Linked DNA regions of Homo sapiens: regions 1, 3 and 4 are each linked to region 2. Evidence: fine-mapped expression QTL. A gene starts in region 2. Each other region holds a variant in brackets. All regions are shown on one strand. Distances are from middle to middle. Region 1 overlaps DIAPH1 (diaphanous related formin 1). Region 2 holds the start of FCHSD1 (FCH and double SH3 domains 1). Region 3 overlaps PCDHGA1 (protocadherin gamma subfamily A, 1). Region 4 has its middle 5.8 kb from the start of ARAP3.

Region 1 (6,122 bases), 56 kb after region 2:
GCTTAAATGTCTGAAAATGTCTATTCTAAGCTGACATTTGATTGATAGTTTTTGTTGGGTATAGATTTGTAGTTTGGAAATTATTTTTCTTCAGATTTTTAAAGGCCTTGTTCCATTGCCACCCAGCTGTTGATATTATTGTTAAGAAACCCAGAACTGCTCTGATTCCTTTGTATATGACCTGTTTTCATCCTTTCTGTGGAATTTTGTAGGATTTTCTTTGTATTCCGGTGTTTTGAAATTTCACCATTATATGCCTTTGAATAATCTATTTTTGTCCTTTGTGCTAGAGACTTATCCTTCAATACTGGGAAATTTTCTTTATTTCCTTGATAACTTGCTCTCTATTTTATGTTTTCTCCTATTATTTGGATATTGGTCCTCCCAAACTGGTCTTCTAATTTTCTTATCTTTTTGCTGTACTTTTTGGGGAATTTCCTTAATTCTTCCAGTCCTTTTATTGAGTTTTCATTTCTGTTCTTGTATTTTAAACTTCTAATGACCTCTTTTTCCTCTGAATGTTTGTTGTGGATATTAATGATTTTTAGAACATCTTTCTTCTTGTTGCATACTGTTTATTTGGCAAGTTGCTTCCCCCAGCCCCGCTTTCTCTCATGTTAGGATCTTTCCTCAGATGTCTGATAATCCTGGGTTGTCTACTCATGTTTAAGAATGAGGGATTACAAAGCAGATTGGAAACTCTAGGTGCGTGGGTAGGATTTGAAAGCTGGTTGCTTTGCTGTAGGACAGCACCATCCAATAGAAATCTAATGTGAATCACATTGTAAGTTTAGATTTTCTAGTTTTAGAAACGTGAAATTAATATATCTAAAATATTACTTCAATATGAATGAAATATAAAAATTATTAATGAAATATTTTACTTTTTTATATTGTTATGAATTGCAGTGTTTATTTTACATTTACAGACATCTCAACTGAGACGCTAAATTTTTATTTATTTATTTATTTATTTATTTTGAGATTGTCTTGCTCTGTTGTCAGCAATGTGATCTCAGCTTGCTGCAACCTCTGGGGGCTCAGCTGATCCTCCCACCTCAGCCTCCTGAGTAGGTGGGACTACAGGCAAGCGCTACAATGCCTGGCTAATTATTATTACTTTTTTTTTTTGAGACAGAGTCTTGCTCTGTCACCCAGGCTGGAGTGCAGTGGTGCGATCTCGGCTCACTGCAACCTCTGCCTCCCGGGTTCAAGTGATTCTCCTGCCTCAGCCTCCCGAGTAGCTGGCACTACAGACGCGTGCCACCACGCCCGGCTAATTTTTTGTATTTATTTTTTAGTAGAGACGAGTTTCACTGTGTTAGCCAGGATGGTCTCGATCTCCTGACCTCGCAATCCACCTGCCTCAGCCTCCCAAAGTGCTGGGATTACAGGCGTGAGCCACCGCGGCTGGCCCATGCCTGGCTGATTTTTAAATATTTTTGTAGAGGCAGGTTTTGCCATGTTGCCCAGGCTGGTCTCCAACTCCTGGGCCCAAGCCATCTACCTGCCTCAGCCTCCCAAAGTGCCGGGATTACAGATGTGAGCCACCACAGCCAGTCCCTAAAAATTTTTTTAAGCCTTTTTTTTGAAGAGCAGTTTTAGGGTCACAGCAAAATTGAGATGAAGGTATAGAGATTTCCAATATATCGCTGCCCACACACGTGCATGGTGTATCAATCCGTTCTCACACTGCTATGAAGAAATACCTGAGACTGGGTAATTTATAAAGGAAAGAGGTTTAATTGACTCACAGTTCTGCATTGCTGGGAAGGCCTCAGGAAACTTACAATCATGATGGAAGGCAAAGGAGAAGCAGGCACCTTCTGCTTTGCCTTCTAAGGGTGGCAGGACAGAGTGAGTGCAAGCGGGGGAAATGCCAGATGCTTACAAAACCATAAGATTTCATGAGACTCACTTGATATCATGAGAACAGCATAGGGGAGACTGTCCCCATGATCCTATTACCTCCACCTGGTCCCGCCCTTGACATATGGGGATTATGGGGATTACATTTCAAGGTGAGATTTGGGTGGGGACACAGAGCCAAACCATATCGCATGGCCTCCCCCATTGTCAACATCCCCCACTAGCGTGGTACATTTGTTGCAATTGGTGAGCCTGCATTAACACATCAGCATCACCCAGTCCATAGTTTACATTAGGGTTCACTCTTAGTGTTGTACAATCCATGAATGACATATATCCATCACTATAGTATCATACAGAGTATTTTTCACTGCCCTAAAAACCCTCTGTGCTCTATTTATTCATAACCTGCCTACCCTACCTGCCTCCCCCAACCCTTGGCAACCACAGTTCTCTTTACTTTTTCCATAGTTTTGCCTTTTCTAGAATGTCATATAGTTGGGTACATATAATATGTAGCCTTTTCCTTTTTTCTTTCTTTTTTTTTTTTTTTGAGATGGAGTTTCGCTCTTGTCGCCCAGGCTGGAGTGCAATGGCGTGATCTCGGCTCACAGCAACCTCTGCTTCCCGGTTTCAAGTGATTCTCCTGCCTCAGCCTCCCAAGTAGCTGGGATTACAGGCACCCGCCACCATGCCCAGCTAATTTTTGTATTGTTATTAGAGAAGAGATTTCACAACGTTGGCCAGGCTGGTCTCAAACTCCTGACCTCAGGGAATCCACCTGCCTCAGCCTCCCAAAGTGCTGGGATTACAGGCATGAGCCACCGCACCTGGCCGCCTTTTCCTTTTTTTGAGACTGGGTCTTGCTCCGTCACCCAGGCTGGAGTGCAGTGGCTCGATCTTGGCTCACTGCAACCTCTGCCTCCCAGGTTCAAGCGATTCTCATACCTCAGCCTCCCAAGTAGCTGGGATTACAGGCACCCACCACCATGCTGAGCTAATTTTTGTATTTTTAGTAGAGGCGGTGTTTTCACCATGTTGGCCAGTCTGGCCTCAACCTCCTGGTCTCAAGTAACCCACCCGTCTCAGCCTCCCAGAGTGCCATGTTTACAGGTGTGAGCTACCG[C/T]GCCCGGCCATATGTAGCCTTTTCAGTTCAGCTTCTTTCTTTTAGCAGTATGCCCTTAAGATTAGCACTAAGACAACAGATAATGTTCTGTTGTCTGAATGTGCCATGGTTTAGTTACCTGTTCACCTACTAAAGGATGTCTTTGTTGCTTTCAAGTTTTGGCAATTATGAATAAAGCTGCTGTAAACATTTCTCTGCAGGTTTTTGGTGTGGACATACGTTTTCACTTCCTTTGGATAAATAAATACCAAGGAGCATGATTGCTGGATCTTATGTTAGTGTATGTTTAGTTTTATAAGAAACTGTGAAACTCTTCGAAAGTGGTTGTACCATTTTACATTCCCACCAGCCATGAATTGAAAGTTCTTGCTCGGCTGGGTGCGGTGGCTCACGCCTATAAATCCCAGCACTTTGGGAGGCCGAGGTGGGCAGATCGCTTGAGGTCAGGAGTTCCAGACCAGCCTGGCCAACATGGTGAAACCCCATACTAAAAATACAAAAATTAGCCACGTGTGGTGGCATGCGCCTGTAATCCCAGCTACTCGGGAGGCTTGAACCTGGAAGAAGGTTGCAGTGAGCTGAGATCATGCCACTGCACTCCAGCCTTGGTGACAGAGCAAGACTCCATCTCAAAAAGAAAAAAAGAAAAGAAAGTTCTTGCTCCACATCTTTGCAAGCATTTGGCATCATCCGTGTTGTGGATTTTGGCTATTCTAGTAGGTATGTAGTGGTATCTTATTTTAATTTACACTTACCTGATGACATATGATGTTGAGCTTCTTTCGTAAGTTTATTTGCCATTTAAATTTTGTTAAATAAAATGTAATAAATTCCTCCTCACTTACACTAGCCACCTTAGTAGTGCTGTACAATTATATGTGCCTAGTGGTACATGTTGGACAATGGAGCTCTGAAGTGATCTACTTGGACTATGTCACAAGCTTTAAGTTGATTCCCCAGAGAAGACACTTCCAACCTTCTGTCTCAAGGGGAAAGGCCAGGCTGCTGGGGCTCTAAGAGACTAGAGGGGGAAAAGTGCTGAGTGTCTCAGTATATACTATGCCTAGGTTTACTTTTCTTTTTAGTATAGGGACCCTGGCATCCTCCAATCCAGAGACCCTCCGTTTTACCCTCTTCTGAGAACAAACTTCCAGACCTCTGCTGGAAGAAGGGAGGGTAGTTTCCCAATGGCATGGTTGAGGGGTGGGGTATGATCTAGGGATCTAACTGCTTCTTAAACAGCTTCCAACCAGTCTTATTTTTAGCCTCCCCCTCCTTTAACTCCCATTTCCATAGGTATCTGGTGCCAATTATTCCTAAGCCTTTTGAGGATCCTTAAAGTGTAATGGGTTGGTTATTGCTCTTTCCGGTTTAGGACTCAGCTTTCTGTAATGTGTTGGATTTAATACCTCTAGTTCTTCTAGTCCCAGTCTTCAAAATTTGCAGTTGCTCTTTTGTTCTTCCCAACCTTGTAGGCTCTTTCCTTGCATCACTTCTTACTTTCTAAAAAACACCTTTTCTGTAGGTTTAGTGAGGTTTCAAGAAGGAGAGAAATTAGATGTTTTGGTTCAGTCTGACATCTTTTACCTGAAAGTTCCTATTAATCTGGATTCCTAAGCCAGATTTGGATATTTTAAAAAAATTCATTCTGTATTTATGCTTCCTTCAGTATCTATATTTGTAGTTAAAGGTATAAGTGCTAATGTTTAGTGGAGGACTCAATAGAAGGGCCAGGAAGTGAGATATTTACCACAGCCAGCCTAGGACAGTAAGGGTTTGGTTTGGGACCAGAAGAGAATTGACAGCAAACAAGGAGAATGATGAAAGTGGATGCATTTAGATGTAGGTAGGATGATTAGAGACTTAATTTTAAGAATCTTGGATATCTGAGACCTAATACATAAATAAAGCTCCAGTAGCATTTATCTCCCTGGACTCCTGTGTTTTTGTTGTTGTTGTTGTTGTTGTTGTTGTTGTTGTTAACTTGTCATGATCTAGGAACTTATTCTATATTTCAGAGAATACACACAACTAATGATACAATTAAAAAATGACTACTGAACAAAGCTGTTTGCCAACATAGAATCTGTAAGAACACACATAGTATTAACTAAGTAAACAATACACTCTGAATATACTGTAGCAGCAGGTTTCTATTTTAATAATTGAGCTTGCTGTTTGAGTGTTGTATTGGATTCTAAAACCGTTTTGCTTGTACTGACTGGGCTGTGATTCACTTTGCTGGTTGTTGCTGCCCTCTGTTGGACTAGCTCAGGAAATGCAGCTTTTTTTCCCTCGTGGATCATGTTTGCTGTCCTTCCCCAAATTGAACACTAAAACATGGGTAATTTTTTTTAAATTTTCTTTCTTTCTTTTTTTTTTTTTTTGATACAGAGTCTCGCTCTGTCACCCAGACTGGAGTGCAGTGGTGCGATCTCGGCTCACTGCAACCTCCGCCTCCCGGGTTCAAGTGATTCTCCTGCCTCGGCCTCCTGAGTAGCTAGGATTACAGGCAGGCGCCACCACACCCGTCTAATTTTTGTATTTTTAGTAGTGATGGGGTTTCACCATGTTGGTCAGGCTGGTCTCAAACTCCTGATCTCGTGATCCACCCGACTCGGCCTCCCAAAGTGCTGGGATTACAGGCGTGAGGCACTGTGCCTGGCAGATAATTTTTTTTTAAGATAAAATCTGTTTCTGATGATGCCCTAGGAAAGCAAGGGAAACTGGCATCTTCCTTCATATATATATATATATATATATATATATATATCCCCATCTCCCTTCCTTCCTTTTCCATCTAAAGGCGAGAGTTAGTGGATATTGAATAGGAAAAAGGCACAAGAATTTGGGGAATGCAAAGATTTGGCAGCTTTGGAGTCTGGATGCCTGAGTTCTGTATCCAACTCATCCCCTAATCATATGACCTCAGTAATTTACTTCACCTGGCTGGGCTTCAGTCTCTTCATTGATATAATGAAGAGGTGTAATAGACTTGGAGAGTTTCTCCAGGGATTGATATTTTAGGGAAGCAAGCCTAGATTATAGTATTTGTTCATAGGAGATATAATGACTTAAGTTACAGGCTCTGCCATCAAGTAACTTAGTCTGGAAATGGGTAGAGGAA
Region 2 (6,122 bases):
CACTGTTGCAGCTTCCTCTGCCCTGGCTGGAAAGACTCCAGAATCCAGTGTGGTGCTGTGGAAGGAGCACTGGACTAAAGGCTTCAGTGGCTGCGTGTCCCAGGACAGGTCATGGCCCCTCTCTGGGCCCAGCCCATTTATCTATACCATGAGGTAACTGAAGTAAGGAGAGCAGTGAATGTCAAACTGTGTTTCTTAGAGCCATAAGCCCCACATATTATCCCTGAACAAGGGCAGCTCCTGCTTTATATATTTGATACGTAGGGGTTCCATGAGAGATTTTGGGTTTTAAAGGAATGGTTTTACTGCATTAAAGAAAAAAAATGCTTTGGAAACCAGAGGCCTGGGTGATGTTAAAGTCTATCCTGTCCCACTTCCTACATTCTGGGACTACCGTGAAGCCTGGAGTAGGGAGAGCGAGTTTGGGAGCTGGGACTCGGGGAGTCAAAAATAGATGAGTAATTGTCAATAAACCTGGGAACCAAAAGACTACCATTCTCATTCATTCATTCAACAAATATGTATTGTGCACCTAATTGGTGCCAGGTCTGGGGATATAGCATGAACAAAACAAACAGGGCCCCTGCTCTTATGAATCCTCCGTTGTGGAGGGGAACAGAAAATAGCAAATAAACACATAAACCAGTACTTGAACAAGTGAGTTTAGTGCTGTGAAGAAACTGAACCAAAGTGATGAGCTTGAAGAGTGATTGTGGAGGCCAGGCGCAGTGGCTCACACCTGTAATCCCAGCACTTTGGGAGGCTGAGGGGGATGGATTACCTGAGGTCAGGAGTTTGAGACCATCCTGGCAAAGATGGTGAAACCCTGTCTCTACTAAAAATACAAAATTAGCTGGTTGTGGTGGCACGTGCTTGTAATCCCAGCTACTCGGGAGGCTGAAGCAGAAGAATCACTTGAACCTGGTAGGTGGAGGTTGCAGTGAGCCGAGATTGCACCATTGCACTCCAGCCTGGCAACAGAGCAAGACTCCATCTCAAAAAAAAAAGAGTGATTGTGGAGATGGTCTTTGGATGGGTGGATGGGGAAGGCATCTGTGAAGAGTTGCAAAGTAAGGGAAAGAAGCTGTTGGAGGCGACAGATGGAACGCTGGAAGGAGGAGATTCTGGAGAAAGAAAGCAGGCATGAAGAACTCTGCATTGGAAGGGACTTGGTCTACTGAGGGAACAGCAAAGAGGCTGGAGCACAGTGAGCAGACAGTGGGAGGAGAGTACAGGCTGAAGTAAGAAAGACCAGCAGGGTCTTCCATGCGTAGCCTTGAAGGCCATGGATTCTATTTGGATTTTATTCTGAAGCAAGTGCATTTTAAGCAAGTAAATTATGAGATCTTATTTCCCTTTAAAAAAGAAAAAAAAGGTTGATCACTCTGAGTGCTGTGTGAACAGTGGGTTGGGGTGAGGGCAGTGTGGAAGCAAGGAGATCAGATATTAGACCAGAAGTCTAATAATGGGGGCTTGGACTAGGATGGTGGTCTTGGAAATTGAGGGAAGTGGATCAAGAGGTTTTTGTTTGTTTATTGTTGTTTGAAATAGAACCTGTAGGACTTACTGATGGATAGAATGTAGGGGTAGGAGAAGGCACATTGACTCTGGGTTTCTGACTTAACTGACTGGAGGAAATGCGGTGCCATTTAAAACGTTACGGGGGGAGGATCAGGTTGAAGGAGGTTTAAAAGCTTTAAAAGTTGAGGTTCCTATTAGATATACTAGCAGAGGTGTCAGTGGGGAGTTGGAATGTGAATCTGGAGTTTTGAGACATGTCAGGGGTACTGGGACAGGTGCCTGAGCCAAAGAAGCTTAGGTGAGGAGGATGAGGAATTGGGGAGAGGCTCCTCAGGAAGCAGTGCTAGGGCTGGAAGATCCTAAAGGTGGCAGGGGCTTCCTGCGCATCTCCCAGCTCTCGCCGACTCACTGGTATCGTTTAGTTTTCAGTGGGGCCAAGTCTTTTTCCCTTTGGGCCTGGTTCCTTCCTGGATCCAGGCATCTTTCTCACCCCGCTCACGCTGGCTTTTCCAGTTAAGCGGGAATTAGGAAAAGGTCTGGGACCAGCCCTCTCTTCGTCAGATGCATCTTTGCTCAGGTGCCCAGTGACTCAGTTTCCCTGGTCACACACTGAATTCCTCTCCATTCCTCATCATTAGCTCGGGGACTGGGGATCTACATATGCAAATGAATAATTATCAATAATTACAGGCTGAATCAGTGGTTACACTACAAATAGAACTTAGGCGTCTTGACTCAGATGCCTGGGGTTCTTCCCACCGCCCAGCGGACGCTGCGTCCGCCCCGCCCGCCCCGCCACCCGGACCCTGCCGGCGTATTCGCAGCAGTAACAGGTTTAGTTTCTCGGTGGCCCCCTCTCGCTTCCGCGCCCTGCGACGTCGCCGGACAAGTCGTGGGCGGGCAGAGGGCGGGGCCTGACCTGGCCTGGGGCGGGGCTCCATAGTGGGCGGGGCTTCCTCCAGTTCCGGAGTCCAGTGGCTGACCGCCTTGCTGGAGCGGAGATGCAGCCGCCGCCCCGAAAAGTGAGCTTGGCCCTGAATGGGGACTCCTGGCGGGCTGGGGGAACGGAGGGAGCTAAGGGGGCATCCGACTTGTGGTAGGAGACGGGAAGTCGGAAGGGGTCAGACCCCAAACCAGAAGTAACAGAGGAAAGAGCTCAGCACCCCCCCGGCCCCGCCCCCTCACCGCTCCCTGCGCGGAGTGTTTTTTAGGTCCTTGCGCTGGGGTCTTCATCCTCTCTTTGCCCCCACAGGTGAAGCCGGCCCAGGAGGTGAAGCTTCGCTTCCTGGAACAGCTGAGCATCCTTCAGACCTGGCAGCAGAGGGAGGCGGATCTGCTGGAGGACATCAGGTAGCTCCCCCAACCCCCTTCATTTACACTCACCTTCGTCGTTGTGCGCCACTTCTCCCCAATATACATGTGCTGGGGTGGAGGAACAGGGGCCAAGAGCTCCCCAGCCGACCCATCCACAGCCCTCACCCTAGGCCTGGCCTCTCCAGATACTGGATAGGAATGCTCCCCCACCTAACCCCTCCCAACCCCCTCCCACCCACATAAACACACAGGAACCCTCCCTCAAAGCCCTTGACTCCACACCACTGCCCCCAACCCCACAATCAACCTTAGGGCAGAATCCCTCTCCCTCTTCCAGACCTGTTGGAAGGCTGGCAGACATCGTACCCAGGCCCCCATCAGTCTTCACCTCTAAGCCTACAGATGAACCTCTGGGGTGGGGAGGATCCTGCTGGGGCCCGGGGCAGTAAGGTGAGGGTTTCCTGTGTTGCAGCTGCCCGAGGTGATCTCAAGGACTCCCATCAGTCCCATTCCCTCTGGGTGTAGTTACACTCTAGGAACCTGGCTCCCCCCAACCGCTCCCTCCTGCCCAGAGTAGAGGACTGAGGATGGGAGAACAGGACCAAACATAACCTTATCCCCCACCTCACCCCCGACCTGCAATCTCCGCAGATCCTACAGCAAGCAGAGGGCAGCCATTGAACGGGAGTATGGGCAGGTATGGGACTTTTCTCTGGACCTTACCTCTTGTTCCAGCCTCTCTTATATCACCAGTAATGTCTGTCCATACCTATCCCTATTGTGGTCAAGAGCAGATGCCTAGAGTCAAGCAGACTGGTGTCAGATCCCTGCTGTGTAATTATAGCCATGTGACCTTGGACAAGTTACTTAACCTTTCTTGACCTCAGTTTCTTTCTCTGTGAAATGGGAATAATAATAATACCTTACCTTCATGTAGGGTTGTTGTAAGGATTAAACAAATTAATGACTATAAGGCATTTAGCAAAGCAAGTGGCACATAATGTACCCAAAGAATGGTATGATTATACTCTGATGTCATATTCTGCCAGTTGGGGTGGGTCTTTGAAAGGGAACTTGGTTCTGTGATGGCTTTTTCACCAGGCACTCCAGAAACTGGCTGGCCCATTCCTGAAGAGGGAAGGGCACCGGAGCGGTGAGATGGACAGCAGGTGGGCCCTATGGAGGGGGAGGGCCACAGAGGCCAAAAAGTGATGGGGAGCTCAGCCCCAGGAACCTGTGGGGATGAAGGCCTAGCAAGTGGGGAAGGCACGTGAGCTGTAGGTAGAGCTGACACAGCAGCAGCAGAGGAGCTGACCCAGCAAGGACACTGTGGGTGGGGTGGAGGGCAGGAGTGAGGCTTGTGGCTGAGCTAATGGGCTGATCGATTGATGGGCTCCCAGACAAGGGAGGATGGGAAAGCACTCTGTCTCCCATGGTGTTGGTCAGGGGGCAGGGGGTGGGGGTGGTCTCATGAAGCTGTGGAGTGCTCTCCTCCTCAACACAGACCTTCTCTGGGGAGGGGCAGGACAGTGTTCGGTGCCTGGCGCTGCCTGCTGGATGCCACCGTGGCTGGGGGCCAAACCCGACTCCAGGCGTCTGACCGATACCGTGACCTAGCAGGGGGTACAGGGCGGAGCGCCAAGGAGCAGGTGCTTAGGAAGGTATGGCTCAGAGGTTGGGGTGAAGGAAGAGCTGGCTTGGGACCAAAGGTGGTCTAGGTAAGGACTTTGTGTATGCATCCCAATAGGGAACAGAGAACCTCCAGAGGGCGCAGGCTGAGGTGCTGCAGTCTGTCCGGGAGCTGAGCCGAAGTCGGAAGCTGTATGGGCAGCGGGAACGTGTGTGGGCCTTGGCACAGGAGAAGGCGGCTGATGTCCAGGCCAGGTGGGGTCATGGAGAGTGAGGAAGCCCAAGGTTGGGGAACAGGGAGGTGGGGCTGTCTAGGGGTGGAGCCAAGTCACCAAAGCTGGGCCTGACTCTGATCTCATATTCTCCCACTTGGGGTGGGCCTGACTCCTTTCTCTCATCTGCACAGGCTAAACCGAAGTGACCATGGGATCTTCCACTCTCGGACCAGTCTCCAGAAACTGAGCACCAAGGTTCGAGGGATGAGGGCATGAGTGGGGGCAGGGAAGAGGGAGGCAGAGTAGTCTAGTGGTTTGGAACATAGGTGCATATGTATGAAAGACTGGGTTGAATCCAGGCTCTCCTACTTCCTGGGTGGGTAACCTTGGTTAATTTACTTGATCTCTGTGAGCCTTATTTTCTTCTATAAAATGGAGAGAATACCCTTCTTTTTCAGTCCTTTAATATGCATTTATTGAGGATCTGTATATAATAGGCACTGTTCTAGACATTATGGATACAGTGGAGAACACTACCAATGGAGTTCCTGCCCTCACAGTCTGGTTAAGAGAGACAGACAGCAAATAAATACTTAGATTAAGATGAAAATAAAACAAGGTACTATGATAAAGAATAACAAGGGGGTAGAATTTAGAGGGAGGCCTCTCTGAATAGGTGGCCTAACTGTCAAGAAGGAGCTGGCCTTGCAAAGATCTAGGGGAAGAACATTGCAGAGAGAAGAAATGGTGAGTGCAAAGGGTCTGAGGTGGGAATAACTTTGTAGGCTCGAGGAACTGAGAGAGGGCCAGTATGGCTGGAGTACTGTGAGCAAGGGAACAAGCGCTTGAAAAGAGGTCAGAGAGATTGCGGGGGCCAGCTCATATTGAACGTGGTGGACCATGGTAAGGAACAGTGGATTTTATTTTAAATGCGTGCAGAAGGCACTAGAAGATTTTGAGCAGGAGTTGTGTGTATGCAACATTTTTAGTGTAGTGCCAGGCACATAGTAAGCACTCAATAATGTGAGAATCCATTCTGGATCTGGCTTCTCAATTGGTCTTGGAAGGACTCTGGGGGTCTAGGGCTTCCTATTGACATCAGTTTACCCTCCTAGCTGTCCGCCCAGTCAGCCCAGTACTCCCAGCAGCTGCAAGCAGCCCGCAATGAGTACCTGCTTAACTTGGTGGCTACCAATGCCCACCTCGACCATTACTACCAGGAGGAACTGCCAGCTCTGCTCAAGGCCAGTTTTAACCCAGACACCCCTATCCCTCAGCAGGGAGGGAAAGGAGGACCTCCCCCTGCTTCTTGATCCCCATGACAGTGGGTGGTGCAGGGGATCTTGTCTGTTTAGAGTGAGTAGATGATACATACATGCACTCTGGTTCTGCTCCTAGCTGGCTGCATGGCATTGTACAGTACACTTAAACTCTTCCGAACCC
Region 3 (6,122 bases), 200 kb after region 2:
CCCGGCTCTAGGAGCCAGGCCAGCAACCTTTGATATGCAAATGCAGGCCATTAGAAACTAGGTCCATTCAACTTGGCGATTCCCACAGCCTTCTTGCCCTTGCCCCACAAGTTCCTGGCCACATGGCTGCCCCCCACATATCTCCACGTGTTTAGAACATCCATGGCGCCCTACGTTTGCATATTAAAAGGCTGGGGTGGGAGGGCCAGCTTTTTCTCGGGCTACGTGAATGATATGCCTGGTCAAACCAATCCCCTGAGCCCTATGCAAATCAGACATCACCTCCACCAGCCTCTGCATATATACCTGGCTGGTATCCGCGGTAGATGGGGACCTCCTCTTTTGGAGCCCCGCTCCCTCTGTCTCTGTAAGGGGGAGCTCCTTCCTTCTGTCTTCTCCCTTCCTTCTTGCCTATTAAACTCTCCGCTCCTTAAAACCACAAACACACACACAAAATTGCTAATGCAAGATGAAACTATGTAAAGTGATGTTAATAATCAATGGGAAGAAATGCGATTGTACTATGACCTTTAACATTTTTTGTCAAAGCATTAAAAACTCTTATTGGTTGTAAATTTGTAGAGAAATAAAAAAACTAAAAAAAAAACCAACAAACTAATATTTATTTAACACAGTGTAATTTAAAACATTAGACCCACCGGGCGCAGTGGCTCAAGCCTGTAATCCCAGCACTTTGGGAGGCCGAGGCGGGCGGATCACGAGGTCAGGAGATCGAGACCATCCTGGCTAACACGGTGAAACCCCGTCTCTACTAAAAATATTTTTTAAAAAATTAGCCAGGCGTGGTGGCCGGCGCCTGTAGTCCCAGCTACTCGGGAGGCTGAGGCAGGAGAATGGCGTGAACCCGGGAGGCGGTGCTAGCAGTGAGCCAAGATCGTGCCACTGCACTCCAGCCTGGGTGACAGAGCGCGACTCTGTCTCAAAAAAAAAAAAAAAAAAAAAAAAAAAAATTAGAACCATGGAGGATTATTTCCTTGTAAAAAACATGTCAAGATTAGTTTGGCCTCTTTTCATCCTATAACATATAATATGGAATAAGCAGGTGGAGCATGGTGGCTCATGCCTGTAATCCCAGTGTTTTGGGAGGCCGAGGTGGGCAGATCACCTGAGGTTGGGGGTTCGAGACCAGCCTGACCAACATGGAGAAACCCTGTCTCTACTAAAAATACAAAATTAGCCGGGCGTGGTGGCACATGCCTGTAATCTCAGCTACTTGGGAGGCTGAGGCAGGAGAACTGCCTGAATCCAGGAGGTGGAGGTTGCGGTGAGCTGAGATCATGCCATTGCACTCCAGCCTGGGCAACAAGAGTGAAACTCTGTCTCTAAATAAATAAATAAAAAGGAATAAGCACCTTTTCTTCATCTTGACAAGTTGCCATACTCCTTTCTAAGTTTGGATCAACTTCCAACATTTTATTTATTCTTGGAGGTTTCAATGCTTTGAAATATCTGAGAGTTCCTTTAATGTGAAGTTTTTGCTGGCATTACTTTCTCTGGGACATCTTCATCCTTTTCATCACAATTACTTTTCTCATTCATGTCAATAAATTCACCTTCACTAAGCTCCTTTAGCTGCCCTTCTAGAGATTCTTGAAAGTAGCAGTGTGAACATTCCCATGGTCAGCTATTTCTTCTATAACTCCATTTATGTTCAATTCAAATTTCACTGAAAACATTATCACTTTTGTTTCTTTGCTGCACTTTTATCTTTGCTGGCCAATTCTTAATACATTTTTCTAAAATGTTATGTGGGTTTATCACTGGAAGGCAACACAACTACATGCTTTGCTGTCTGTGCATGAACTAAATTATAGGCACACAGTGACTGATCACTGACATACTTTGAAAGAAGTCATGTGATTGGCCACATTATTTTGCTCATCTGTTATTTTCAAAGTGCTCTGTGGACTGAAGGGCTAGCAGCCAAGTTTGTCCTTTATGGAACTACTCAAAGTTAATATACCATGGTAACTAAAATTTGAATTATTTTTAGGAGACTTATGTTATTTAAGCTGTAGTAACAAATATTTTTATAGTGAAACTGTTCAAAGCCAGGACTACCTACATAGTGTGTTACCTTTTGTGTAAGAAAGAAGAGGACATAAGAAAATATAAATATGTATAGGTTTTGTTTTTGCGTTTTGCAAAAAGAAACACAGTGAGGATAAACCACAAACTAATGAAATCGATTATCTACAGAGTGTGGTGTGAATGAGGCAGAAGGTATAGGGGAGGAATGACAATTTTCTGAGTACACCTTTTTTTAATAGTTTTGACTTTATGTTAATGTTTTACATATTCAAAAAAGAATACTAGGCTAGGTGTGGTGGCTTATGCCTGTAATACCAGCACTTGGAGGCTAAGGCAGGAGGATCACTTGACCCCAGGAGTTCAGGGTCAGCCTGGGGAAACATAGTGAGACCCCATCTCTAAAATAAATAAATAAATAAATAAATAATTAAAAAATTAGCCAGTCATGGTGGTGTGCACTTGCAGCCCCAGCTATTTGGGAGGCTGAGGTGGGAGGATCGCTTAAGTGCACGAGGTTGAGGCTGCAGTGAGCTGTGATTGTACCACTGGACTCCAGCCTGGGTGACATAGCGAGACCCTATCTCAAAAACAAAACAAAACAAAACAAAACAAAAAAGCAACAGAAAATATACTAATCAACCAGAGTGTGGCAAAACTCTAAAACTGCACATAATAGAAACAAACTTTATTTTAATGAATCACATAACTATACTACAGGTAACTTTTCAGCACAGTACTTTGACAATATACCCTCAGTTTAAAGACAACCAATTGCAAGCAAATCTTCAGCAGCTCTTTCTTACTGTATAATGCCAACTAATAAAAGT[G/A]GAATAAATTATTACAAATGGAGTTAGAAAATCATCTCCCCAGAGTGTGGGCTGGACCAAGTGATTTTGCTTCTTATGAACAAACTACAGCAAAAATGATGGTATGTTACTTTCTCAGTTTTCCCTCCCTCCCTTCCTTCTTCCTTCTCTCTCTTCCTCTCTCCCTCCCTCCCTCATTCCTTCCTTTCTTTCTTGACAGGGTTTCATTCTGTGGCCTAGGCTGGAGTGCAGTGGATGGAGCAAATGAGTAAATATATTCATAGCACTGGGAGCCAGGGTTCTTACTGTTGGAAAATAAAAATACAAAGATGGAAAGGGGGAAGGCTAGGAAGAACCAGAACTGGAGGTATCAATATGAACTCACGATTTTGAGGGAGTGTGTGTACAAATATAAATATGGGTGTGTTTATGTGTGTTTTTCCTAGCTCCGTCTGCTGACAAGGCCTAGAAACAGTGACAGCCCATTAGCAGTGAGCATACCTCACACCCAGATCTTAGTTTCTAAATACTATTCCCTACTAAAATGAAGCAAGGCTTTTGGATAAATGGTTCATCTCAGAACTGGAACAAGGAAAGTATGAGTCTCTAATATTTTCTTATATCAGAAAGTAAGAAAGGGTTCAAGAAAATGAGAGAGTTATGGCAAAAGGACACAAGAACCAGCTTGAAGAGGTTCTTATTGGTAACATCTAAAACAATTTGAGGTCAAAATAAAAAATGTTAGTAATAGAATATAACTCATTGGAAAAAACACATGAGCCATATATGAATAAATAAGAAGAGAAAAGAAAGCTCTTTCTTACTGTATAATGCCAACTAATAAAAGTAGAATAAGTTATTACAAATGGAGTTAGAAAATCATCTCCCCAGAGTGTGGGCTGGACCAAGTGATTTTGCTTCTAATGAACAAACTACAGCAAAAATGATGGTATGTCACTTTCTCGGTCTTTCCCTGCCTCCCTACCTCCCTTCCTTCCTCCCTCCCTCCCTTGTTCCTTCCTTTCTTTCTTGACAGGGTTTCATTCTGTGGCCTAGGCTGGAGTGGAGTGGTGTGATCTCGGCTCACTGTAACCTCCGCCTCCTGGGTTCAAGCAATTCTCTGGCCTCAGCCTCCTGAGTAGCTGGGACTATAGGCATGCACCACCAGACCAGCTAATTTTTGTATTTTTAGTAGAGGCAGGGTTTTGTCATGTTACCCAGGCTGGTCTTGAACTCCTGGGCTCAAGCAGTCCACCCTCCTTGGCCTCTCAGAGTGCTGGAATTACAGGTTTGAGCCACCATGCCTAGCCTTGTATGTCACTTTCAAAATTAGGTTTATAAAAAGATTGTGGCTTTCATCACATTTGCCCTCTCTGGCACTCTCCTTTACTTGCTCTAACAGAAGCTGGTTGCCCTATGGAGGTCCACATGGCAAGGAACTGAGGTAGACCTCAAGCTAACAACCAGCAAGGAACTGGAACCCTTAGTCTAACAATCCACAAGGAACTTAATTTTGCCATTAACTATGTGAGAGAGATTAGAAGCGGATCCATCCTCTGTTGACCCTTCAGATAAGACAATAGCCTTAGGTGACACTTTAATTGCTGCCTTGTAAGACTTTGAGGCAGAGGCACTCAGCAAAGCTATACCCAGTCCTGATCCACAAAATTTATGAGATAATAAATGCTTCTTTTAAGCCACTAAGTTTTGGGATAATTTGTTACACAGCAATGGCTAAATAATATACTACCAAAAAAATGTCTAGTCTAAATACAATCATAAGGCTGGGTGTGGTGGCTCACGCCTGTAATCCCAACACTTTGGGAGGTCAAGGTGGGTGGATCACAAGGTCAGGAGTTCGAGACCAGCCTGGCCAATATGGTGAAACCTCGTCTCTACTAAAAAAAATACAAAAAAATTAGCCGGGTGTGGTGGCACATGCCTGTAATCCCAGCTACTTGGGAGGCTGAGGTAGGAGAATTGCTTGAATCTGGGAGGCAGCGGTTGCAGTGAGCCGATATCGCACCACTGCACACCAGCCTGGGTGACAGAGCAAGACCCCATCTCAAAAAAAAAAAAATAATAATAATAATATTAAATAAATAAATAAATACAATCATGAGGTCCGGGCACGGTGGCTCATGCCTGTAATCCCGGCACTTTGGGAGGCCAAGGCGGGCGGATCACCTGAGGTCAGGAGTTGGAGACCATCCTGGGCAACATGGCAAAACCCCGTTTCTACTAAAAGTACAAAAATTAGCCAGGCATGGTGGCAGGCATCTGTAATCCCAGCTACTCAGGAGGCTGAGGCAGGAGAATTGCTTGAACCTGGGAGGCAGAAGTTGCAGTGAGCCGAGACTGCGCCACTGCATTCCAGCCTGGGTGACAAGAATGAGACTCCATCTCAAAACAAACAAACAGACAAACAAACAAACAAACTCTATATATAAAATCACGAGGAAACATAAAACAAATATAAATTAAAGGCATTATACAAGACAAATGGCTTCTAGTCTTTACAAATGTCAGTTTCATATAAACAAACAAGGCTGAGGAACTGTTTCAGATTAAAGTAGATTAAAGAGACATGGCAACTAGGCCACACATGGTGGCTCACGCCTGTAATCCCAGCACTTAGCTGAGGTGGGCAGATCACTTGAGGTCAGGAGTTCAAGACTAGCCTGGCCAACATAGTGAAACCTTGTCTCTACTAAAAATACAAAAATTAGCTGGGTGTGGTGGGAGTGTGGTGGCACATGCCTGTAGTCCCAGCTACTCAGGAGGCTAAGGCAGGAGAATCATTTGAACCTGGGAGGCGGAGGTTGCAGTGAGCCAAGATCATACCACTGCATTCCAGCCTGGGCGAAAGAGTGAGACCCTGTCTCAAAAAAAAAAAAAAAAAAGAGACATGGCAACTAAATGCAATGTGTGATATTTTGGACTAAAAAAAATTACTATGAGGTATAGTAAAATATACTATAAGGTATGGTAGAATTTAAATATGGACTATAGGCTAAATAATTATATTGCATTGATGTTAAATTTTCTGATTTTTATTATTAAAATTTAATTATATAAAAGAATGTCCTTGTTAGGAAATACACAATGAGGTATTTAGGAATAAAGAAACATAATTTCTACAACTTACTCTCAAATGTCATAAAAATAATCATGTCATAAAAAAATCATATCATATAAAAATAATGTGTTTGTGTACATACACACAAACATATATACATACACACTTGGGTGTGTATGTAAATA
Region 4 (6,122 bases), 37 kb before region 2:
AAGTGTGCAAACCTCTGGGTCTCAGGTAAACAACCAGCAGAGCATCTTTTGCCAGGACACGCTCCACAGAGATACAATGATTCGCCTGGTGAGTGAATCTCTCTCCCTGTCTACCCTGAATGCCTGCTCAAAAGCCCTTGAACAGAGTAGTCATGCTACCAGAGATGGAGGCTATGTATGAGCCCAACAGCATGGGCTCCCTCTCACCAAGGATGAGCTAGTTCTACCACTTTGATCACTCAACCTGCCTGCAGCCAAGACCAGTGCTGGGCCCTCCCTCAGAAGGCTCTCTTCCTCAGAAGACCAGCCAAGCCTCTGGCTGCAGATCAGTTACACTGACCCTATTCTTTCTACTCTGGAGGGGACAGTAATTCGTTCTTACTGGCAACAGTGCATGCTCCAGATTCAGGCTTGTCTTCCACAGTGTTTTTACCAAAAAAGTACAATAATGTGGTCATCAAGGACTTCTATAGTTTCTGCTCTTACATTTAGGTCTTTGATCCATTTTTGAGTTCATCTTTGTATATGGTGTATGGGATGCCGATCAACAGAGTCATTGGGCTCGCTTGGTTGCTCCTCATCACCTAGAAGCTGCCAGCCTGATGGGACAAGGGGACAGCCTGTTGAATGCTCAGTGAAGACACTGGCAGGAACATGACACCTGTGGGTTGGGGCCCTCAACTCCTTGATGCGGTATTTGTTTTGACCAGTACTATGTTCCTTATACATAGAAATTGCCAGTCCTGGAGTCAAATGTGGAAGTGGACGTGGCCCATCTCATTCACATTTGTAGAATATTTGCTTTCTGTCCCCAAAACTGGTGGCTCTGCCAATTCGAGTTTCTAGTTGCCAGGAAGGGAGAACTTATATGAAAGAACACAGTAGTTTCCACTAAACTGGAAGCTGTGACAGCCACGTGGCCACCTTATGCTCCTCATTCTAGTGGGCTAATAGACAAAGAAGGGCATTAATGTGCTGGCCAGGGCCATTGATCCTGATGGCCATGAGGAACCAGGGCTGTAGATACAATGTGCATAGATGCAATGAAGGCGGGGAGTCTGGCCCCAGCCAGGGGATTCGCTGTGGCATCTCTTGGAACTTCCCACCCGGTAGTAATTGCCAATGGACAACTTCAACAACAATTCTAAAAGGACAGGGCAACAAAGGCATCAGATCTCTTGGGGATGAACGTCTGTATAATCTCATCAGGCAAGTAGCCCAGATCTGCAGAGGGCTAGCGGAGGGTCACGGAAGGAGGGAGAGAATATCAATTATGGACTCAAGACACGCTACAGCAGTGGGACTGTAGCTTGCTTCATTAGCCCTCTCCTCTTTATCTTCCTTAAGACCACATCTGGCATTTTCTGGAAGGGGACTTGATTCCAGTGGACTGTACTTTCCCTCATGAGGAAAGAGTGAGGGCAACTTTGTCCCTGTGGGGGAAAATGCCCTGTAGGGTGGCATAGAAGTCAGGTATAATGGGAGGACTTGAGTGGATCTCAGTGGCATGAGAAATGGGCTGCCCTGAGACATGAACCTTTCTTCTCAAATTCCTTCACTACCTCCTCCTCTACTTTCAGACTTAGATAAAATGCCACACTGTACAGTGTGGAACCTGGTTTCCAAGTGCCACCAAGGGCTGGGTAACAGAACCCAGAAGCATGGGAAGGTGACTCTGTGGGGTGAACCTTGACCCATGGGAGACAGGTCATGGGTGGGAGCTGAGGACTGCTCCAAGGTGGATTTCCTCCTTACCTTCTGGAGAAGTCCCACCCACGTGCCGAGAGAGAGCACCCCTGCTGAGTAGCCAGCAGTGTCTCTGAGGGGCTTGTGTGAAGCAGGGCAGGACAGGAAGGCACCGCACTGTCTCACCTTGCATCCTCCATTTCCTCTCCCTCAGCTCAGGGCTTCCACCTGAATCCTGACCACAGGCTCTGCTTCTCAAAGACCTAAGACAAAGGGATTCCTGAAAGCTGTTTCCCCGTCTGTGTCCCACACTGTGGTCACCACTGGAGCCTGAGTTTAACCAGTCCAGCATCTCTGCTGAAGCCAAAGAAATGGAGACCCCGGGGGACAGGAACCAAGCAACTACTTTCCAGATGGGAGAGAAAGTATAGATGGACATCTGAGCAATGAGGGAGGGGCAGGCATGGTCAAGAAATCGAGTGGGGAGATCAGAGGGTAGGAAGTTAAGTCCCAGTGAAAACTGCCCCCTGTAAATGGGTCTGTGCAGTGAGTTTTCTGGGAGAGAGTGATTAGATCCTAGAAGTGAGAAGGGAGAAAAATATTATCTTTCTCCCAAGGAGTAGACAACTGCATCCATGCAAGGCAGGGAGTGCATTCTCCTGACACCTTCAGGGCTCCATATTCCTGGGTGGGGGCAGTGTCTGACCCACAGATGCTCTGGACAGTGAAAACATCAAGAGTGAGTAAACGGTTGGCTGGGCACGGTGGCTCACACCTGTAATCCCAGCACTTTGGCGGAGGTCACGAGTTCGAGGCCAGCCTGGCCAACATGGTGAAACCCCGTCCTTACTAAAAACACAAAATTAGCAAAACATGGTGGCACATGCCTATAATCCCAACTACTTGGGAGGCTGAG[G/C]CAGGAAAATCACTTGAACCTGGGAAGCGGAGGTTGCAATGAACTCAGATAGTGCCACTGCACTCCGGCCTGGACGACAGAGTGAGACTGTCTCAAAAAGTAAATAAATAAAAAATAAATAAATAAATAACCCAGTATCCGGTATTTTGTTACAGCAATGCAAATGGACTAAGATAGCCCCCCCCCCCACCCCCTCTGGTCACTCCCAAAGCCCCAGTTCATAAATACTGCATGCCCAGGGCACAACCCCATATCTGGAGTACAGCCTCACACTCCGATGGAGTTTTGTGTCCAAAAAAGGACTGGCCCAGCAGCAATTTGGTGGTTTGCAGGGAGGTAGGGCAGAGACTGAGCATGTCCAAATATCCCTAATACTCTCCTTGCACCTACCCCTGCTTTCACTCTTCTGTCTTTCTTTAGATGTGTGCAGTGGTGCACCAGAAGCTTTAAACAAAGGTCTGCTAATTCCTGGAGTCATCCTTGTCATTCTCCTGCCTCTAGGCAAAGCCCTATTTCAGCATTTTCAAGGCAGCAGGAAGGGAAGAGGAGATGAGGGACCTGAGCCCCAGCAGTCTACAGTCTGCTTTGCCTGGGATGCATAAATAGGATTGGAAGGGCCCTCGTCTTTGAGAGTTGGGTGCAGGGTGTTTTTCTAGGGAGAGATCCATAACTGTCACCAGAGTCTCAAAAAAGTTTAAGATTTGCCTGTGCTGTCCAATATTGGCAGCCAGTGGTTGTTTAAATTTAAATTAATTACAATTAAATTAAATTAAATATTCAGCTCTTCTGGCTCACCAACCTCATTTCAACCTCTCAATGGCCACATGTGGCTACCGGCTGCCATACTGGACAGCACAAATAGAGAACACGGTCCATCATTGCAGGAAATTCTATCAAACAGCACTGCCATTAATTTTATGTATAGAGAAACTGAGACCCAAAGAGAGATGACTTGCCCCAAGCCCTAAGGGGAGTTAGTACTAGCTGTAGTACTAGATACCCTTTATAAAACATTTTGCAGTAAAATTGCATTAAAAATCTTGTAAATACAGCTCATGTCAATAGCCTAGGGTGGAAGGAGACAGGGCCCAGTCATGGGAATGAGGATGCAGGGGAAGGGAGGTGTTCTGTGTTTGTTCCTTCCCTCCCCCTGACCCCAGGGCTGCCCCAGTTCTCCAGGATAAAGAAGGCGTAGAGGCCTGGAACTCCCTCCTCTCCTCAATGATGACTTCATCCTCACAAAAATGTGAGGAGGGAAGTGGGAAGGGGCTCCCTGGAGGGTAGCTCTGGAGTCTAGGGGGAAATGGCACAGCCCTCAGGCCAGAGGAATTAGGGGTAGGGAGGGCTGTGCTGACCCTAACCAGTCTCCATGCAGCCATCTTCCTAAAATTCAAACCTAAATTCATGAGTCTATTGCCCCATGCTTAAACTCTTCCCTGGCTCCCCATGGCTCCTGGCATGGAGACCAAATCTCATACAAGCCCTCCAAGGGCCTGCATGGCCTGGCCCCTGAGATCCTTTCAGTCTCAGCTGGTCCCAAACTCCCTGTCTCTTTGATCTGTCTCCCTTCCTCACCAGGCTGACTCCTACCTCAGGGCCTTTGCACTCGTGGTTCTTCTGCCTAGAACACTCCCTCCCATCCCGCTTAACTCCTACCCATCTTTCTGAGATCTCAACTTAAGCAGAGCTCCCTGCAGAAGCCTCCCAGACCCCCAGGCCAGGTCAGCTGCCTCTGTTATATGCTCTTACAGTGCTTCCCTTCAGAAAATTCATCTTGGTTTGTAATTACACATTTATTTGGGGGTTGTTTGATAAATGTCTCACTTCTTGAGCAGGTCATGTTCCCTAAAGTCTGCTGAGCACGTCATTGCATCTCTAAACCCTTGAGCAGTGGTTGGTCCAGAAAAGATGATTAATAAAAACATGAGAAATAAATGAAAGGATTGAATGGGAGTCTTCCTTCCTGTAAGAAACATGCTCGGCCGGGCGCAGTGGCTCACGCCTGTAATCCCAGCACTTTGGGAGGCCAAGGCAGGCGGATCACCTGAGGTCAGGAGTTCAAGACCAGCCCCGCCAACATGGTGAAACTGCGTCTCTACTAAAAAAAACCACAAAAATTAGCCGGATGTGGTGGTGGGCGCCTGTAATCCCAGCTACTAGGGAGGCTGAGGCAGGAGAATCGCTTGAATCTGGGAGGCGGAGTCTACAGTCATACGAGATCGCACCACTCCACTCCAACCTGGGCGACAGAGGGAGACTCTGTCTCAAAAAAATAAATAAATAAAAAGAAACTTGCACCTTGGCATCCCCCTAGGCCCTGTCCCATCTCATCAGGACCAAATGTGGGTGATGGCTGTGCCTTTTACCATCCAGAGGGTAAGGGCAGGAAAGGAGTGTGACCTGGAGGCCACTGGAGACCATGGAGGCGATCAGGAGTTGCAGGGGTGACAGGAAATTGAGTTACAAAAGTGATGGAACAGACAAGATGACAACTGGGGACCCTGGGGAAAATACAAGGGGTACAATGTGGTCTAATTTGGCAATAGGATGCCACAGGCTGATTGATTAAAATAGGTAACGGGATATGCCAGAGTGATGAAGAAACAGGCAAGCTGGGTGCATACCAGAGTTATCATGGAAGTAACTGGCAAAAATAGGAACAAGGAACAGGAAACACTTTGAGCACTCATTGAATGTCAGGTCCTTTCCACATATTACCCATATATTTCCATAGATTAATCTTTACAACCCTGTCAGGCACTATTCTCTCTCCTTTTTTCAGAAAAGGAAACTGAGGCACACAGGGCAAAATAGAGATGAATAATCTGCTCAGGTCACAGCTGGTAGAGGTGGCATCAGGGCTTTATTTTAGAGACTGTTTTTTTGTTGACCTTTTGTTTTAGTTTTTGTTGTTGTTGGTGGTGGTGTTTTGTTTTGTTTTTAGAGACAGGCCTCACTGTCACCCAAGCTGGAGTGCAGTGGTACGATCTCGGCTCACTGCAATCTCCACCTCCTGGCTCAAGCAATCCTCCCACCTCCACCTCCTGAGTAGCTGGGACTACAGGTGCACACTACCACACTTGGCTAATTTTAAAATTTTTAGTAGAGACGAGGTCTTGCTATGTTGCCCAGGCTGGCCTCAAACTCCTGCTCTCAAACAATCCTCCTGCCTTGGCCTCCCAAAATGCTGGGATTACAGGTGTGAGCCACAGTGCCTAGCCGAGAGACCTTGTTCTTAATTACTGCATACCATCCACTTTTGGTGAACAAAGTGGCCTCCAAAGTGATTGTGGCTTAATAGTCTATCATTTGAGTGGGGAACAAATCGAGACATGGAAGGGGCTATTGAAGAATTCCCTTCCACATCTCCTCATTGCTTCATTCTTCCTCTTCCTCTGCTCACTAGTGTCCCTTTTGTCCTATGTGTTAAGATTAAGATTTAAGATTTACTAATTTCGGCCGGGCATGGTGGCTCACGCCTGTAATCCCAGCACTTTGGGAGGCTGAGGTGGATGGATCA

The links. PIP is the estimated chance that this variant, and not a neighbour inherited with it, causes the effect. A credible set is the group of variants that fine-mapping cannot tell apart.
Region 1: its variant is the best candidate, but not a certain one, in a credible set for the expression of FCHSD1 in whole blood (INTERVAL, PIP 0.51).
Region 3: its variant is the best candidate, but not a certain one, in a credible set for the expression of FCHSD1 in whole blood (TOPMed, PIP 0.58).
Region 4: its variant is the best candidate, but not a certain one, in a credible set for the expression of FCHSD1 in whole blood (INTERVAL, PIP 0.64).

Annotation. Positions count from the first base shown.
Region 1 is chr5:141,591,342-141,597,463 of GRCh38, reverse strand. The region is part of intron 1 of DIAPH1 (diaphanous related formin 1); the gene reads left to right. Among named protein-coding and RNA genes, the nearest start is that of DIAPH1, 25 kb to the left of the region's middle. The variant C/T (reference allele first, on the strand shown) is at 2,996.
Region 2 is chr5:141,647,769-141,653,890 of GRCh38, reverse strand. It overlaps FCHSD1 (FCH and double SH3 domains 1), which reads left to right and starts at 2,473. Exons shown (of 20, transcript NM_033449.3): 1 at 2,473-2,543; 2 at 2,774-2,871; 3 at 3,487-3,532; 4 at 3,937-4,004; 5 at 4,355-4,496; 6 at 4,583-4,719; 7 at 4,871-4,934; 8 at 5,795-5,923. The coding sequence starts at 2,523. ARAP3 (ArfGAP with RhoGAP domain, ankyrin repeat and PH domain 3) reads left to right here. Exons shown (of 33, transcript NM_022481.6): 33 at 1-489. RefSeq lists an enhancer at 3,873-4,451.
Region 3 is chr5:141,449,646-141,455,767 of GRCh38, reverse strand. The region is part of intron 1 of PCDHGA1 (protocadherin gamma subfamily A, 1); the gene reads right to left. All of the region lies in intron 1 of PCDHGA2 (protocadherin gamma subfamily A, 2), which reads right to left. All of the region lies in intron 1 of PCDHGA3 (protocadherin gamma subfamily A, 3), which reads right to left. All of the region lies in intron 1 of PCDHGB1 (protocadherin gamma subfamily B, 1), which reads right to left. It also overlaps PCDHGA4, PCDHGB2, PCDHGA5, PCDHGB3, PCDHGA6 and PCDHGA7, and 10 more genes. Among named protein-coding and RNA genes, the nearest start is that of PCDHGA12, 22 kb to the right of the region's middle. The variant G/A (reference allele first, on the strand shown) is at 2,880.
Region 4 is chr5:141,684,921-141,691,042 of GRCh38, reverse strand. No RefSeq gene overlaps it. Among named protein-coding and RNA genes, the nearest start is that of ARAP3, 5.8 kb to the right of the region's middle. The variant G/C (reference allele first, on the strand shown) is at 2,603.